Homo sapiens: one gene and its partner. The protein of the gene in region 2 interacts with the protein of the main gene of each other region in a biochemical or structural test. Each region holds a gene or a part of one and is shown on either strand. Other genes may lie near its edges.

What was found.
Region 1: the proteins of CLOCK (region 2) and RXRA form a complex in vitro, tested with the Homo sapiens proteins (one study listed by BioGRID).

Annotation. Positions count from the first base shown.
Region 1 is NC_000009.12:134,329,455-134,336,486, reverse strand, and holds part of RXRA (retinoic acid receptor RXR-alpha), read right to left. Parts: intron 1-7,032. UniProt on the Homo sapiens protein: Receptor for retinoic acid that acts as a transcription factor.
Region 2 is NC_000004.12:55,427,384-55,431,922, forward strand, and holds the end of CLOCK (circadian locomoter output cycles protein kaput), read right to left. Parts: 3' UTR 520-4,539; downstream 1-519. UniProt on the Homo sapiens protein: Transcriptional activator which forms a core component of the circadian clock.

The DNA.
Region 1 (7,032 bases), on a different chromosome or scaffold from region 2:
CAAATGAGGAAATCAAGACGAAGAGGGAAGAAGGAACGTGCTCCAAGTCACAAAGTCCATGTGGCAGAGAAGACCCGGGCTGTGAGCATGCCATTGCCCAGGCCCACTGTCTGCAGGGGCCTGGAGACCAGCTCTACGTTGCCGCTAAGGGGTGACGCCCCCTGTGATCCCAGCCTCAGGAGAAGGTGGGTCACACAGGACAGAGGGGTGGATGGCTCTGACCTTGTGCCCAGGAGACTGAGGGGAGGGAAGAGGAAGGCCCCACTGCCCTTCCAGTCCTCACCCCTCCACTGGGCCCGGGATGGTGCGGTGGTGCTGCCTGCCAGGCCCGCCTTGCCACTGTCTGTGCCCAGAGTGACCTGGCACCCCTGACGAAGGCCCCGCCTCCCTGCCCTACACCTCGACCTTGATCCTGGGCAGAAAGTCCATGAAGGGGTGGGGTAGGGGCAGCTCCACCGCCTCCCGTGGACTCTGCTCACGGTCAGAGCTGTTTTCCTCCCTCCGGGTGGGGAGAGGGCGAGAAGCCATCCAATAGCCTTGCACTCACACAGGGGGCTCCCGGGCAAATGGCGCCTAAGCTGCCCACAGGGAGAGGCAGGGACCAAGGCAGGACCACAGGGCACTACAGGGACAGACCAAGGGGTATAGGAATAGGTGGTAGGGAAGGGCCCCAGCCGTTCCTCCCAGTAGTGGACACACCCTGGGAGCCAGGGCCCCGAGGTGGGGTACCGCACATGGGCGCCGGTAGGAGTCACACTCCAGACCTGGGCAGGAAGGAGAGGGGACATCAGGCCAGCTGGGGGCGGCCAGGCTGCAGCGAGGCCCACCCCTAGCCTGAGCTCCTCCCAGGGTTAATTATTCCCAGGCCAGCTGACCATAGCCTCATGCTCACAGGGGTCCCCACCAGCACAGACCTGGAAGCCAGCCAGCAAGGGGCAGGCCAGAGGAGCCTGGTCACACAGTCAGACCCTCAGAAACCCTCCAGGGAAGCCCCTACTTACGCCCGCACGGGCATCCCTTCCCCATACCCTTGGCTAGAACCAGATCCCCCTGGAAAGAATCCATCCATTCTCTCTGCCTTGATTCCTTCCCCACTTCCCACCCAACAAACTCCTACTCATCCCTCAAAACCCAACTACATCACCTCCTCTGTGAAGCTTCCCTGACCTCCCCCAGGCAGTTTATGGGTGAGACAACTGAGGCCTAGTGAGGTGAATTTGCTAGCCCAGGGCCATACAGCCTGTGACTCAGAGGGGCGCTCACTCATCGCATGGGGCAGCCTACCTCACCAGTTAGTTTTAGACATGAGAAAATCAGTGAGAGGTGCCTAATGAGGTGGGAGAGGCTACAGAGCCACATGACACTAGGTGGAGGCCTGGCCTCCATCCTGGGGACAATGGGGTGCCATGGAAGGTTCCAGGCAAGGAAGGTCAGTGCCCAAAGAGAGAAGGACTAGCCTGGCCTTGAGTGATAACCGTCATGGGGACTGACCCCACTCATCTGTGGCCCCTACTGCCTCTGCTCTGCCATGCCCCCAGGCCACCTCTTCCCCATTATAAGCTGCACATCCCGAAAGCGCTTCACCACAACATGCCCAGTCCACATCCAGACCCACACCCACCCTGGCTAGCTCAGAGCCCACGGCTTCCTGGACGCCAGCAACCCAGGCCCTACCCCAGCCCAAGTCCTGTCCCCTCAGCTGGGGAGGGCATAGAGCCATTTCCCAGGGAGCTGGTCCCCAGGGTGCCACCCTGACCAATGGCCAACAGCATATCAGAACAAAGCCAGGGTGCCAAGAAGGCAAGGCAGAGGCTTTGACAGCCAGAGGGCCCCAGGGAAACTGAAGCCCACAGAGGGGAAGGGACCTGCCCAGGGCTACACAGCAGCCTGGTCAGAGAGCAGCCCCACCATGTAGAGAGCTGAGTTCGAGGGACGGCTCAGCACACACTGCCACCGCCACAGCCCATGCTATCACTGCGGCAGTCAATGACACTGCTGCCCAATGCCCAGTCCTATTTCTGAGGAGCAAACTGTCACCTTGGTGGCCCTCTGCACACCAGGCCTGGGTTGACAGGAAACCAGGAGCTGGATGCGGCCTGCCAGCCTCTCTCCAAGGTACCAGATACATCCTCCCCAAGCACAGGCACTGAAGCCACTGCTGACAGGCAGGAGAGGTGCTTCTGATCCCACTCTCTAAGTCAAGCGAGTCCTTCCTGCATACCTGTACTGGGTGCTGCAAGGATGCCCTCGCCTCAGAAGGGCCCTGCCCTCAGGAAGCCTGGGAAAAAAGAGGCTGGATGGGTGGCTGGCACGTGGAGAGCTCCCATCCGCCAGGCACCTCCACCAGCAGCGGCCTCAACACCTAACACAGGCGTGGGATCACTCCACGGCCCTCAGGCGGGAGGAAACTGGGCAATAGTCAGGCACAGACCCAGCAGGCTTGCCAGCGGGAGCTGAATGCAGGCTCTGGGCACCAAGTCCAAAGCTGCAGCCCCACCCCAAGCCCTGTACCAAGGGGGCTGCTGGGCACCAAGGATGGCAGGTGGGCTCTGGCTGGGAAGGAAGGCTGAGCCTGCACAGGTGGAGAGGGAAGAGCAGGCAGCGGGAGTCCCGGCAGAGGCACAGGGCTGCCCAGGCCCGAGAGCGCCCGATTCAGAGGGGCTCGGACACAGCAGCTGTTGGGAGCCCACCCCAGCGACTCCAGCCACCTGTGCTGTCACTGCCTGACCTCTGCCCAGGGCCAGTGTGGACACTTAAGCTAAATTGGTCAATTACAGGATACTTAGATCCCTCCCCGGGGCTTCCCAGCCTCACTGCATTCTGGGCTGCAGCACCAGGAAGCCTGTTGAATCAGTAACCTCATTACAGCCGGCGGCCGCACCCGGGGTTGTCTTTGAACTCCGAGGGTTTATCCATGGCGGCTGGAGGATTTACACACGGCCTGGCCCAGGCCCAACTCACTCTCCCCTCCCCTCAGCGCCAGAGGCTCCAGACCCCGCACGCACGGCAGCAGTCTGCGCCGACACCCATCACCCCCAGCCCTGGCCCCGGGTACAGCTGGGGAAACCGAGGCCCAGCTGGAAATTACTATGGCTTAGAGGGCCAACAGAGGTGCGGGGAGGCCAGGCACGGCCTCTGGGTCACCCCAGAGGTAGGACTGTGACCAAGGGCTTCCCGGCATCCCTCACCCCAGCAGGCAGTGCCTGGAAGAGGAGCTGGGGCTGAAGCCTATCATCAAAGACAGATGTGGGCTGTGCAGGACAGACCCCGTGGCAACTTCTCACACAGAGACCCTGAGAGGCTCTGATCCCCTGAAGGACCCCTGAATGTCCCACTCCCCAGCCCCAAAGTCTGGTCCCCTCCATGGTCTCAGCATCCCTGATCCGGCCCCAAGAGGCCCGGCTGCTCTACTCCCCCTGGACGGCCTGCCCCCTACTTCATCCAGAGCCTGGGGAGTGCAGGGGGGGCCGGAGCCAGGGCCAGGGAAAAGGTGCCTCACCCATACCCGTGCCCGGGAAAGACGACCCCCAGGCCAGCCCAGGGACCTGGCCTAAGCCCCCAGGAAGATGCTAGGAATCCTCCCCCCTTCCCAGGCTGCCATGCTGAGGAGCCCAGCCAGGGCAAGGGTGCAAGGCCATTCACAGGGGCCCCAAGGCCCACCTGAAACCAGTGAGCCACCTGGAGAGAGTCACTTCCTCCTTCCAGGCCTTGCCTGGCTGCCTCCAGACCACCCTCTGCACAGCACTGGTGGCCTCATTCCAGCCATGAGCACCACACTGGGATCCCCCAGTCTCCGGGCACCCATGCACCTACGCCCGGCACACAGGCCCTACCCAGCCTCACCTCACACGTGAACCCCCTCCTGGTTCCAGCCCTGCAACCCCACCCTTGCGTCCTCACCCTCTTCACCCCCTCCAGGCCAGACCTTGCTGTCCCTACCTCTGGGCACCCCTCCCCCACCCCTCCTCCACAGGCAGCAGGACCAGGCCAGCACCCAGCGGGCGCTCCCTAAGCCACGTGTGGACAAGCCCACCAGCAATCCCCGCCTCCCCAGCCAGGGTTGTCAAGGCTCTGCCAGGTCACCCTGGGAAGGCTGCGGCGGACGCCTGCATGCATGGGGTGGGCCGCGTGTGCTGGGTTAGGACCTCAGAAAGAACTGTGCCCCTACCCTGCCCTGCCCTGGGACCCGGGGGTCCAATCTCACTCCGTCCACTCCCCCAGGTACCTCAGGAATTTGCTGCAGACAGTGCTGCCCTGGTGGCATGAGGAGGTGGGCAAGCCACAGTTCCAGGCTGGGCCTCTGCTGCTCACCCAACTACAGCTTTCCACCTGGGAGTGGGGACTTCTCCTAGCCACCACCCCAAGCCAAGGACAACCCTGGAGTGAGGATCAAGGGGTCGCCACTCCTTAGAGGGCCTTCAACCAGCACAAGAGGCCAAGATGCCCAGTCCCAGGGCACAGAGCTGGCATGGTGAGACCTCAGCCCTCCACCAGGGTCCCCACTGAACAAAAACCTCACTCACTCGGGCCAAGACCAGCAATGGGGCTCCTGGGAACCAGCATGGGGCATAGACCCAGCCTGGTCGGTGAGCAGCCTCTGAGGATGCTGAGAGGCAGGAGGACCAGGGGCAGCAGAGCCCCCACCCTGGGGACAGGTCCTCCCAGCTGGAGCTCAAGGCGGCCCCCGCCAGTCAAGTGCCGGAGAAAAAGCAGGCCCCACAGCGGGACACAAAGGCTGGCCCACAGACCTCACCCAGGGTTCAGTGTCCCCATCCACTAAGTGGGCTTGTCTCTGTGACACCTCCACAAGGTCCCAAAAATAAAGTCCCTGGCACGCAGCAGGCACCCGCTGCAGCCATCGGCACCTTCGTGGGGGTAGGGTGAGTCCTGGACAAGTTGGGGAGATTTAGAAAAAAAGGAGGCCAACAAACCCAGCAGGGAGCACCATGATCCTTGGGGGACCCCATGAGGCCTGGCTCACTCACGGGCACGCCAGGACACGGGCCAGCGGCCAACAGCGCCAGGTGAGAGCCTGTGACTCTGTGTGTGTGCAACAGTGAGCGTGCACACACCCAAGCCCTGCACGCGGTCCGCACCCGCTCTCCCCACAGCGGCCGGGCCAATTTTCCTTAGCTGCTTTCTGCTCCATTTCACGCTCATTCAGCTGCTGAGCTAGACAATTGCTTTGTAACTCTAGGGCGCAATTTCCCTGTCTGTGAGGCGCTGGGGCACAACTGCTCAGAACATCTCGCACCAGGCTCGGGTGGGTGTGCAAACCGCGGTCCCTCGCCCCACCTGCCTTCTTGGGACTCTGAGGAGGGTCCCTGGAGTGGCACAGGGGCTGGTCCCAAGGACCCAGCAGCAGCGAGCGCTCTCCTGTGGCAGGCCTATATCCACAGAAAGGGCTACCTCAGTGTCCCCGATGTCCTCTATTCCTGAGTCTGTTCCTCTACACCTGACAGCCCCCAGCGACCATCATGGCCTGTTCTGGTCCAGTGCTGGAAACCTGGCCCCACCTGACCCAGGCAGGAGGCACAGAGAGGACCTAGCCACAGGATAGGGGAAACGCCCCACAAACAGACTCCCCAAACTCCCAGCCAGCCTACAACACACCAGGCTGCCTTCTCCAGCATTTGGAAGAGCCAATGAGTATGTCCATTTTTCAGATGGACAGCCAAAGCCCCAAGAGGCCAAAGAGCAGACCAGGCAGGCAGCGAGGACAGAAGGCCCAACCCCAGGTGGCCTGACCACCCGCCCAGCAATGGGACACCACCTGTCAGAACCTCTTCCTGGGAAGGTGCTGATCCCTGCAAAACCACCACCACCTCCATCCTGCAGGTAACAAAGGCCCTGAATGGGAGGGGGCAGAGGAGAGGAAGGAAGGATGAAAGACAGAGCTGCACCCTATAAAATGGAAACATACAGGCAGGTGGGCAAGGTGCAGGGGGGAGGAGGGTGACCCCTCTACCCACACCATAGCACCCTGAAACTGATCAGCTTAAGAATCTCAGGACAAAGGTCTGGAAGGTGACCCCCAAATGGACACCAGCCCCCAACAGCCACAGGCCAGCCCCCCAGGCCCTTGTGGCCCTAGACCCCAGCCTCATCCCTAGCCCAGCAAATGGCCAATTCCTATGAAAACACACCAGTTAACAGGCCAACCCAAGGCCCTGGCCACCAAAGCCAGCTAAAAAACACAAACTCAAGCCTGGCAGAGAAGGGAAGGAGGGGCAGGTCTTGGCTTGCAAAGCCCGGGTCCCAGGGACAGTGTCCCAGCCCTGAGCCAGCTGGGGGTTGGGGAGGGCCTCTGCCCTGTGTCTGCTGGGACAGCTGTGCCCTCTTCTCCAGAGGACAGGCATTGCTCACCACTCGAGGTCCCAGCCCTGAAACATTTGACCCATGGCAAAACCAAACGTCACCCAAGAAAGGAAACTCCCCAGGCAGCCTCCACTGGCACTGGGTGGACCTGTAAAGCTTTCACCCCGCCCCCACACCACCTTCCATGCAGCTGAGGTCTGTCCCACCCTCTCCTGATGCCAGAGCCCCCTGCCACATGCACGACCAGGCCCCAGGGGCAGAGGGGCACACCCCTGAGTACCCCCTGTTCCCACAGTAATTCCACAGCAAATCCTGCAGGCACCCTTTCCCAGGGGAGGAAACAAAGACCACTGACAGCGACCTCCCACACAGCCACGGGGGAGATGGGGCAGGGGCCAAGAGAGGGCAGTCAGAGGGGCCTCCTGGTGGAGGTGAGCCCCCCACAGGCCCTGAAGGACAGGCACAGCTGGAAGAACCACCAGGTGCTGGCAGAGCCGGGAGCCAGTCACAGCAGCTGCCCGCGTGACCAGGGCTGCCGGCTCAACCTGCACCCCACACCCCAAGGGACTCAGAGCACCCGCCCCCCACCAGCCCTTCCTAGGGGCCCAGCTCGTCCCATCCACATCTGGGCAGAGGGTCACAGCTGCATGCTCGGGTCCAGGCCCAGCAGCCAGCCCTAGGCAAGGTTGGAGGCTAGCAAGCCAGGGCCACCAT
Region 2 (4,539 bases):
CTGGGCTGGAATGCAGTGGCGCAATCTCGGCTCACTGCAACCTCTGCCTCCTGAGTTCAAGCAGTTCTCCTGCCTCAGCCTCCCAAGTTGCAGGGATTATAGGTGCCCGCCACCACGCCTGGCTAATTTTTTTGTATTTTCAGTAGAGACAGGGTTTTACCATGTTGGCCAGGCTGGTCTTGAACTCATGACCTTAGGTGATCCACCCACCTCAGCCTCCCAAAGTGCTAGGATTACAGGCGTGAGCCACCGCACCCAACCGTTTTTTCTAATAACAACAGAAAAGACAATTCCTCGTAGGGAGTAGCTGGCACCATCATCGTGTAACCTCAGTTCAGGTAGCTTGGTCCCATTACTAGCTTCATATGCGAATAAGAACAGCATCGCATTCTGAGGCACCACAATCTTGTAGCAGGACATAATTCCTCTGAGAATTTTTGGTAAGTCAGACCTAAGCTATAAGGTAAAAATCGCTACTGCAATAGGCTCCATTGTTGAATAAAAGAAAGGGAAATGTCATTGATAGTGATCTTAAAATATTTAATAGTCTTTCTTTAAAATCCAAAATGTGATTCTTACAAGTTATGTGCCACATGAAGCAGGTGTTATTTTTTGAGAAATGCAGGTGATAACTGAAAAACATAGCACTGAGGTATTTTTTATTTTTAAAATTGAAGGAAACAAAGTCTGGATCTAATTATTTTTACATTTACAAAAACTGCTACTGCTTGGCTCTTTTGCTATAAGTTTAGGTTCTGAATACATGACAAGAGTATGGGAAAGAGCAGAATAATAGTACACGCAGTTTTAAAAGCTATGCACATCATAACCTGGAATAATGATTACACAGCAAGAGGCCTGAGTGGAGGTAGGCTAACAACACATTTTGACTTTCTCCTCAAAGGATAGCTTTGAAAAACAAGTGTAACCAATTGTTACACCAAATTAAAATGGCAATATTAAATCGGTAACAAAACGATCCACATTTTATACAATATTGTATTTCCAAACATACATAGGTCATGAAAATCAGAGAACCTAATATAGCACCGTTGAAACCATTCATTATCCTTCATGTGTGTATGCAATTCAGAATTTCGGCAGAAGACAACAAATGGAAAATGCCTTTCGTTTCTATAAATCATTTTGGATTTCAATTAAATCTTTGCCTTAGTAAAGGGTATTCTTATCTCAAGATCAATTAGCCGTTTTTAGCTCCACCGTTTTGGAAGTAAAAATGATGAGCTACATCTACTTTTTAATTTAAAACCAAGAACCAAGCAGTAAGGACAGCAATGTCAAGAATATCACATTGAGAACCACACAGAACATTATAAAGAATTTGGTGCATGTTTTAACAACTACCAACTGATGTTAACAATGAAAAATTTACAAAGGTAAAACTTTTTTTTTTTTTTTGCACTGACTGGTTTCAATACAGCACTGAATTTAACTCATCTTTGGGCTTCAATCTTTACATAGAGTGAATATGAAAATGCCATACTGAGGCCTTCCCCAACTTAAACCATAGTAAAGATTTCAAAATCATTCCAGTATGGTCTGAATGGTAACTGTTCTGGCTGACACATCTTTTTTTTTTTTTTTTTTTTTAAAAAGACATTTCCTGGCCAATTTTTTTGCTTGAAGATGATTGTCTGGTTATACAAGACATCAATCTGAAGGTAACAACTTATTTTAACTTAACTACTGGCATAACCATTGCCAGCAGTGAACTTGCACTAGTCCAAGCCAACTCAAAAACACACATTATAAACATTTGAATGTCATTTTTAAAAGCGATGTCACAGTTTGTTTCCTAAGAAATTTAAAAGCTTTTATTTGAAAACGTATCTTCAGTTTAACCCTCAGAGTTAAGAAATATTTTTTAGATCATTAAATTCAATTGTGGTTGACGTGCTTTAACTACCGTTCTCTAAGTTGTGTGCTATACCTAGCCTGTGGGACTCCATAGCTTCTCTGAGTCCTAAAGTGGAGGATTCTGTTCCAATGCTTGTGAGCAAGAAGGATCCTCAAATGTCTAGGTTTCCAATATTCCAACACTGCTTTACTGGGCAGTGCTGTGTATGGAAGTTTTGTTTTGTTTTCAAAGGACCAAGTAACTTGACACCATATTAAAGACAGCAAACATTTTTTGTAGAAGTTTACAGCCTGTATACATTATTCCGCCAAATTTAAGAACTTTAAATGGATTTTAATATGGATATGATAATGACAGCCATTAAAAGATGCTATTTCTTTTACTAACATTTCCCCAAATGGGCAAAATAGAGGCATCATGTGCCATTGGTTCTGTCATACTGGCCTTTGACTGTGTTGGGGAAGTAATCACACAAAAAGTGCCCATAAAACAAAGAAGGCAGCAAGTGAAACTAGAAAAAGGTTGGAACTGTATGAATCAGATTTGAAAGGAGTTATTTCTAAAATTCTTTCTTAGATGACTTGAGGAGGGAAGTGCAGGGGCATCTGGAGTTGGCCCCTCCACTGCCGTCCTGAAGTAAAGTAGATTCAGACTGTCCGTAAAGATTATCATGAGAGTTGGTGACTGCACCCCAAATCAGAGCCAGTTCCCTAAGAAGAATATGGTGCAAAACAAAACAAACCACACATTAAATACATGACACCGAAATCACTTTGATGAGAAAACAGAACACACAGGTATTTTAAAATATAAATAAATACATTTAGCCATTTTTATTCAAGAACCCCAGAGAACTGCTTTAAAAGCAATTGCTTCTTTGAACCCCTTTCTAAATTCTTTCATAAATACTTACTAGTTTGATTGTCACTTAATGCAGCACCTCAGTGTTTGCTGGTGGTGGTGATGGAATTTCACTTAGTTGTCTCTCCATAAACTATATCCTATTCCACTAAATAATGTTTCCCTGAGGAAACCCAGGCAGCTTACAAAATACTGTTATAAACACTCACAACAAAACCTGCAGAGTATTTTATTTAAGAAAAACAAGGAATGTAGTGTTATGACATAGGGGGAAAAAACTATGCAAAACAGTCACATGGAAAGAAAGTATTTTAATTTTTAAAATCCAAGTTTGCTTAATTTCTTGTGAACTGTTCAACACTGTTTTAAATATCCTGAATAACTGTGCCAACAAAATTCATCCCCAGTGTTTCCACAGGAGACATTAAAATTAAAGACCAAATTATACTATTTTTTTCCTTTAACCAAAGTATTCTTTTTCTCAGTCCTTTTTGTGCAAAAATATTACAAGAGCAATTCAAATGGAAATGCTGAAATGACATGCCAACATTTCAGGGCACATTTAAAACACTCAGAATAATTCTTGAAATTATTATATTCTAAAATGTTACTAGCAATCACTTTTAGATTAGTTCTGTACATCTACTCACACGGATGCAATTTTCCTAGACCTCTGAAAAATAAACAGGCTCATTGGTCTCTTTTGGTGTCCACACAATAGGCAAGATAGGTTTACAATAGTGTTTAAATCAAACTAGGCATCTACAATCTCTTGACTCCACCACATTCAAAACAAAAATCAAAGTTCATTTGGCTATCTTGAAATCACTCCCATAAACCAACTACGGTTCACTGGACCTAAACATTTCTCAGAAATGTGTCATTTTATATAATTTCACCTAAGTAAGTGATGATTTGGGGATCCTTTAGAAATGGTTAACGCCTAAGAATAAACTTTATCAAAATGAGTAATTGCAATAAAGTGCTTGTTACATTTCAAAATGATGCTTTTAGACTGTGGTATGTTGTTTTAAAAGTGTGTGCTATTCCTTCCGTAAAGGATCCCCAGGCATGAGAGTTGGGTCTTCTCACCTGTCTCATAAAGCAGCAGCACTATCTTTTGGTAGGCTGACAATAGGCACATTACCCATGCGGATGAGGCTATACTAGTGCTATGGCAAAAGGGGAAGTAAATTAGAAAAGTGGGAGGCATGTAGAGGGTTCCTATTATAGTTATATACAAATATATTAAATATACTATAAAAATAGTCGATTCTATTCCTTTGCAATTACTTCAGAAGCTCCTTTTAGAAGAAAGCTCACCCAATCCAAACTTAAAAGGTTCTCTTTCTCCAAACACTTAAAATGGCAAGTGCCTTTGTGCTGTTTCTTCTCTACCATTCAAAAATTCCAATCAGCTTGTCCTGGCTAGAAAGACTCACTCAGCAACATTAATATCCAGTGTTTACCCCCTTCCAACAGGGACTCCTGTGGGACTAAGGGCCACAGGTAATTGGAAAGGTTATAGACTTGAATGCGTTTTACACAAATATTCATCAACAAACTTTCAATTACCAAAGAAACAGAAAGAAAAAAGCAGAAATACTAAAGTAAAATGCTATTTGCATTCCACTTTTAAAAAGTTTGCCTCAATGTAGTGGAAACATCTGAAAACATGTTGAGTAATATCCAGTTTAAAAGAATTTTCACTTGTCTGCGTAGAGTACTATTTTAAGGATCCCTTTCTAAGGCTTCCTGAACAAGGGTTCTTCTCCCTTCAACAGTGCTCTTGATGGAGC